Linked DNA regions of Homo sapiens. The protein of the gene in region 2 purifies or fractionates together with the protein of the main gene of each other region. This does not show direct contact. Each region holds a gene or a part of one and is shown on either strand. Other genes may lie near its edges.

The links. Proteins that work in one complex are often made in the same cells at the same time.
Region 1: the proteins of ATXN2 (region 2) and CEP135 purify together in Homo sapiens (co-immunoprecipitation; one large-scale study listed by IntAct). This does not show direct contact.

Annotation. Positions count from the first base shown.
Region 1 is NC_000004.12:55,951,945-55,955,444, reverse strand, and holds part of CEP135 (centrosomal protein of 135 kDa), read right to left. Parts: intron 3,360-3,500; 5' UTR 3,315-3,359; coding exon 3,202-3,314; intron 3,055-3,201; exon of another isoform or gene 2,974-3,054; intron 2,361-2,973; coding exon 2,170-2,360; intron 1,230-2,169; coding exon 1,062-1,229; intron 1-1,061. UniProt on the Homo sapiens protein: Centrosomal microtubule-binding protein involved in centriole biogenesis. Acts as a scaffolding protein during early centriole biogenesis.
Region 2 is NC_000012.12:111,487,816-111,491,315, reverse strand, and holds part of ATXN2 (ataxin-2), read left to right. Parts: intron 1-2,535; coding exon 2,536-2,840; intron 2,841-3,500. UniProt on the Homo sapiens protein: Involved in EGFR trafficking, acting as negative regulator of endocytic EGFR internalization at the plasma membrane.

The sequences.
Region 1 (3,500 bases), on a different chromosome or scaffold from region 2:
ATCTGTCCACTCTCAGGAGTCTCCTCTCCCCTCAACTTCAGGCACACAATAAGATGATACACTTTGGCCTTTGTCATCACTCAGAACTCTGCTGGCTTCTAGTTCTTCAACTCCAAAATTCCACTCTGACTGCAATCTTCATAGCAAACAAATTACTTTTGGTACTCATCATGCTCTTTAATCTGTCTTGACCTAGCCTCATAATCCAGCAGCCCCCTGTTACTCACTTAATTTCATAATCTTGATCCCATGGTTCAGCTATCTTAATGATTTTGTCACTAATATTGTAGATTCTACCACCAACCCATACCTGCTGAACAATCACCAACTCTGGATGTGGCCCATCATTTCTTTTTTTTTTTTTGAGACAGGGTCTCACTCTATCACCCAAGCTGGAGTGCAGTGGTGCAATCTCAGCTCACTGCAACCTCCGCCTCCCAGGCTCAAGCAATCCTCCCACCTCAGCCTCCCAAGTAGCTGGAACTATAGGCTTGCGCCACCATGCCCAGCTAATTTTTGTATTTTTGGTAGAGGTGGGGTTTCATCACGTTCCCACACAGGTCTTGAAGCGGCCTCAAATGATCTGCCCACTTCAGCCTCCCAAAGTGGTGGGATTACAGGTGTGAGCCACTGCACCTGGACCCATCATTTCCTTTTCTTGCTCTATAACTACTAAGCATAATGCTAAAAATAGTAAAATAAACTAAGAAAGTACATAATTTCCAAATTCTTTAATGAGTATGGATTACTTTTACAACTAAAATAATAATGATAATAATAATAGAAAAAAGAATTTAAAATATTGATTAGAGAAAGCTCTGGGCATTAAAGTTAGACTAGTATCTAAGTAACTAATACTACATACATTTCTAAGCACACGTATAAATTACTACCCGGATCATTAGAAATAAATCAAGAAGTTTACGGTCTATTCAATATATATTTTCAAACACTAAAGTCTAAGCATGAAAATCCAATCCAAAGTCCTATTTTAGTCAATGGTGTTAATATCGTTAAAAGATTAAATGTGTATAATTTGTCTCGAGAAGGAATCGATTTACCTGGAGTTTGTACTACAGCATGCAAATTCTTTTCTTGAAGTTGTTGAATTCTTTCATTCTTAGCTTTGCTCTCTTTCTCCAACAGTTTGAGTTTATGAGCATATTGGTTATTCAGAAATTTCAGATCAGCTGTTTCACGTGCACATTTCTTCAATGAAGTTTTCAACTCTTAAAATGAAAAAGATTCAAAGACCGTTTTAAAGATCAAGAAATCCAATGAAGTTTTTCCATTTCACAAAATACAAAAAGTCATATCAATTTAAAAGTCTCCACCTGCTTCTTATGCATGCTTTAGTTGACACTTATTCCTTCTTCTACTATTATTAACAAAACTGCAAATAACTCACTAAGCACAAAAGAGAATCTTCATTTTTCAGCTACTGTATTAGCCTAACGTACATCATAGCTTTTGATCCAGTAAATTGGGTCTGAAGCTAAAGGATTATGAATTCATACCATGGATTAGATAAAGTTTTCTACTGAATATAAGAATAATTCATACAAAGATAACCATATAATTATCTTTTCCCTAGTACCTTTGAAATCATCCTATTCTACTTGACAGCTCAAAGACTGACTATAAAACAGTCAGCATGATACATGGTTTTCACCTTATTTACTACTTTTATTTTCAGTAAGGGAAAAACAAAAGTTGTTTCAAGAACATTTCTTCAAATCCAGCATTTAATATTCCCTATGGCAATTTTAATTCTAAAATTTTAATTAAATTTTTAATTCTAAAAATTTAATCCACATATAGTGATTATCATAGCTATATAATGCACATTTATTTTCCTTCTCAGGAACTCTTCAACATACCCTATAGTATTTCAGGGGCTATTAGCAGAAGGAGTACCATATTTTCTTTTCTTTTCTTTTTTTTTGAAACAAGTTCTCACTATGTTGCCTAGGCTGGTCTCAAACTCCTGGGCTCAAGCAATCCTCCCACCTTAAACTCCCGAGTAGCTGGGACTATAGGCACACACCATCCAGCTGTAGGACTACTATATTTTCTAATCAATAGTTTTAAAATTAGACGTTAGCTTTTCCTTCTAAAATAAAAAGGACAAAGACATTGCATTTTAAAAATTATCAAATTTTCACTTACCTTTAACGTGTTGGTCTGAATGTTCTCTCAGTTTCATTAACTCTAGGTATAATTCATTATTTTCTCTACTCAATCTTGCATTTTCAAGTTTATAGGGTTCCAAAACAAAATCAAAATTGGCACTTTCTTTTTCAGCTTTCACAGCAGATAATTTTGATTGCCGAAGGCTCTCAGTTGTATGAACTAAGTCGCTAAAAGAACAGAAAATTTAAATACCAGGAAATATTTCATTAACTTTCTAATAACTAAAAACATATTTCTAAAGAGGCTTAAAATACAGTCATGCACCACATGATGACATTTTGGTCAACGACAGACCACATATAGGAAGGAGAGTAGTCCTGTAAGATTTATAATGGGGGCAGCTGAAAAATTCCTATTGCCTCATGAGATCTGGCCATTGTAACACTGTAGCACAACACAATACCTTTTCTATGTTTAGATATGTTCAGATATACAAATAGGCACCACTGTGTTAACAATTACCTACAGTATTCAGTATAGTAACATGCTATACAGGTTTGTAGCCTAGGAGCCATAGGATACAGACCATATAGCCTAGGTTTGTGGTAGGCGACACCATCTAGGTTTGTGTAAGCACACCCTATGATGTTGGTACAACGAAAAAATCACCTAATGATGACATGTTTCTCAGAACGTATCCCTGTCATGAAACTATCCATGACTGTATTTGAAGACCAGTGAAGCAGACATAGAACTTAAGGGGGGGAAAAAAAAAGAACTTAAGGGAAAAGTGTCTCTCAATTATATCAGAAACCCAAAAAACTGTAATTCCATTCACAGAGAAAACCCCCAGAAATGTTGACTTTGAACAGTACAGCGTGAGTGGTGGCCTTTAGAGTTCTGCCGTGTGGAAGGCCTGGATTGAGGACAGGGAAAAAACAGATAAGCTTCATGATTGAAAGCCTTTCCGGAAAGCTACCCTTTTCTTTACCAAAGCATGAAGTTCAATCAGAAATGAGGTAAGTGGTTAGGGATCATAAAGGTTGAAAACTGTATTTTTGTCTTTACCTGAAAAGTTTTTCTACCAAAGGTAAACACTCCACTGTCAGAGTCTGGCGGTATCCCAGCTGATCCAGCCTTTTCCTAATATTAATATACTTTCTCTCTACAGCTGTAGTCATCTCGTCTTCTAAAACAAGTTTTATTCACTTCCAAAAATTAAAGTCCTGAGAGAAAAGAATGAAACATCATTATCTTATTATAGCTATGATTGTTGTTTCACAATAAGAAGAAAAAATTATTTTAATATGAAGCAATTATTTTTTGTTTTTCTTCAGGTAGGTAGCCTTCTGGAAAATTCAGATTTA
Region 2 (3,500 bases):
ACCCCAGAGGACTTTACCCACGGTGGTGGGGCTTACCAAAATTAAGATTCTTTTGGTTTTTTTTGGCAGAGTTTCGCTCTTATTGCCCAGGCTGGAGTATAGTGACGCAATCTCAGCTCACCACAACCTCCGCCTCCCGGGTTCAAATAATTCTCCTACCTCAGCCTCCTGAGTAGCTGGGATTACCGGCATGCGCTACCACCTCTGGCTAATTTTTTTGTTTTTTAGTAGAGATGAGGTTTCTCCATGTTGGTCAGGCTGGTCTTGAACTCCCGACCTCAGGTTATCCGTCCGCCTCGGCCTCCCAAAGTGCTGGGATTACAGACCATAGTGCCCAGCCCGAAATTCAGATTCTAATCACTGGGATGGACAATTCCCCTCTGACTAGGGCTAGTCTAAATACTCCCTCTGTGGGTGCTGGCTGAATTCTGTCCTATGCTGCTTTCCACTGTGACAGGGCAGCACTGAGTTTCAATGCAAAATCCCACAGTCATTTCTCTCTCTCTCCCCCGAGCACACAGATTCTTTCTCCACCCCACACTGCATTGTGGGGGAATGTCAGGGGTGTTGGAGGGGCAGTTCAAGACTATCTTCCTTATCTTTTTTGGTGTCTTTTTCCTTGATAGGATGTCAAAACTGGGTACTGTGATCGCTTACCTAATTTTTGGTTCTTATGAAGGTGCTTTCTTGTGTGGATAGTTGTTCAATTTGGTGCTCCTTGTTGGGGATGATCACTGGAAGGTTCTGTTTGGCCACCATGCTCTGTCTCTTCTCCCCTGCCATCTCCTTTTTTTACTTAGGGGTTTAGAATGTCTAACTGACCAATATGTACAGTCAGGTCTCATTCTGAATTCACCTACTTAATGACCTTCCAAGCTGACTAGGCCCAGCGCTTAGTCCAGCCTCCATGACGGTCCCTCCACATCCTAATTAGCCTCCCTCCAGTTCATTTCACACAAAGCTGCTGTGTTCACCTTTCTGAACTATAAATCTGCCCAGTACTCTACCCTACTTAAAATTCCGTATAGACTGCCCATTTGCCCTGAGAATTAAAAGCCAAAGTCCTAAACGTAGCTTTTTAAAACTTTTTTTTTTTTTTTTTTAATTTTTAGATGGAGTCTTGCTCTGTCACCCAGGCTGGAGTGCAGTGGTGTGATCTTGGCTCACTGCAACCTCCGCCTCCTGGGTTCAAGCAATTCTCATATGTCAGCCTCCCAAGTAGCTGGGATTTACACGTGTGCCATCACGCCTGGCTAATTTTTTTTTTTTATCTTTAGTAGAGACGGAGTTTCACCATGTTGGCCAGTCTGGTCTTAAACTCCTGACCTCAAGTGATCCACCTGCCTTGGCTTCCCAAAGTGCTAGGATGATAGGTGTTAGCCACTGCACGCAGCCCTGAACATAGCTTTTAAGTTCCTTTATTGTCATATTCCTTTTGACGAGTCTATCATTTTCTGACTCACTTGTACATGTGTGTCTCACCCTTGGTCCAGCCATTGGTGCTTTTCTTTACTTCTTTATTTTTGTTATTTTATTTTATTTTATTATTATTTTTTAAATGAGACAGGGTATCACTATGTTGCCCAGGCTGGTCTTGAACTCCTGAGCTTAAGCAGTCTGCTTGTCTCAGCCTCCCAAAGGGCTGGAATTACAGTGATGAGCTACTGTGCCCAGCTCATTGGTGCTATCTTTTTTTTTTTTTTTGAGACGGAGTCTCGCTCTGTCACCCAGGCTGGAGTGCAGTGGCGTGATCTTGGCTCACTGCAGCTCCACTTCCCAGGTTCACACCATTCTCCTACCTCAGCCTCCCGAGTAGCAGGGACTATAGGCGCCTGCCACCATGCCTGGCTAATTTTTGTATTTTTAGTAGAGATGGGGTTTCAGCGTGTGAGCCAAGATGGTCTCGATCTCCTGACCTCGTGATCCGCCTGCCTTGGCCTCCCAAAGTGCTGGGATTACAGGCGTGAGCCACCGTGCCCGGCCCCCATTGGTGCTATTGTTTTATGTGATAGAGCCAGCTTCTCCCTTTTCTTTGGATTTTTAAACATACTCTTCCTTTTACTTAGACTATTCTCCATCCCAACACCTTTCCTAAACTTCTTTCACACCTTAGACTAGCTGACACTTTACTGAGAAACCTTTCTTTTTTATAGGTTGCTTTTTCTATAGACTCTCTTAGCATTTACTCATTTTATTGTGAAGTGTCTGATCTTATTTAAATGACAAGTATAAGAGGATAGAAACTATTTCATATTTTTCTCACCCAGCAGGCACAATTTCTGACATGTGGTAAGCACTCAGTAAATATTGAACTTTAGAGGCTAGGACATTTGAGTGCTTTGGTGACTGTGGTTGTGCTATATAGGTACTCTGTTATTGTTAGTTTATAGTAAAAGCATTACTCTTAAAGTATGAAAAAAGCCTTATTCAGAACATTTCATGCGTATAGTTAATATTACGTAGCTTGTGCTCATGGCAAAAATGTATTACTAAAGTTATTTAAGATATTTAAGTATAATTGTTTCCTTTATTTAGTTACAGCCAAGTTCTACTTCTGAATCTATGGATCAACTACTAAACAAAAATAGAGAGGGAGAAAAATCAAGAGATTTGATCAAAGACAAAATTGAACCAAGTGCTAAGGATTCTTTCATTGAAAATAGCAGCAGCAACTGTACCAGTGGCAGCAGCAAGCCGAATAGCCCCAGCATTTCCCCTTCAATACTTAGTAACACGGAGCACAAGAGGGGACCTGAGGTCACTTCCCAAGGGGTTCAGACTTCCAGCCCAGCATGTAAACAAGAGAAAGACGATAAGGAAGAGAAGAAAGACGCAGCTGAGTGAGTAAACCTGGAACTTAGACCATCCTGTTACTCAATTAACTTTTTTTTTTTTAAAGGCATTTAGGTCCTTCCAACTGTGAAGAATCCATCTGGACTTTTAGACTACTTTATACATTGCCCTTAGTTTACAAACAGCTAGTCCAAACAAATGACATCTTAAGTAAATGAGGTTATTGCACCCTGTGCTACTCTTCTGTTCTTCCCCTTTTTTGTACCCCAGGGCTAGAAAAACAAGGCATAAATTAAGAAAAGTTTTTCTGTAAATGAACAGGAGTTGAAAAATTATCAATTCAGGGGACCTATCTTTACTGGATTCCACTCATTAGTCACCCTCACTGTGCTGCTAGGTTGAAAAACTGCCACTGTCAAGGAGAGAAGCATGCGGTGCTTCTACTTGGAATTCAAAATATTTTTCATCAGAAACTGTGTTTTAGTTAATGTTTAGATTTGTTAAGATAGACTTAATTCTGCACATTCAGTATATTAATTAAATGGACTTTTAGGGGCTAACCTCAGAACTTAACTACCATTGACTTAGGTGTTTGGGTACCAAACAATCCAGTTAAAGCTGAAGTTTTGGAATGCAGCTTATTGATAAATTGGGGACTGCTTATTCTTGATTTGAGGCAATTTTTTTTTACAGCCATGACTTTTTCC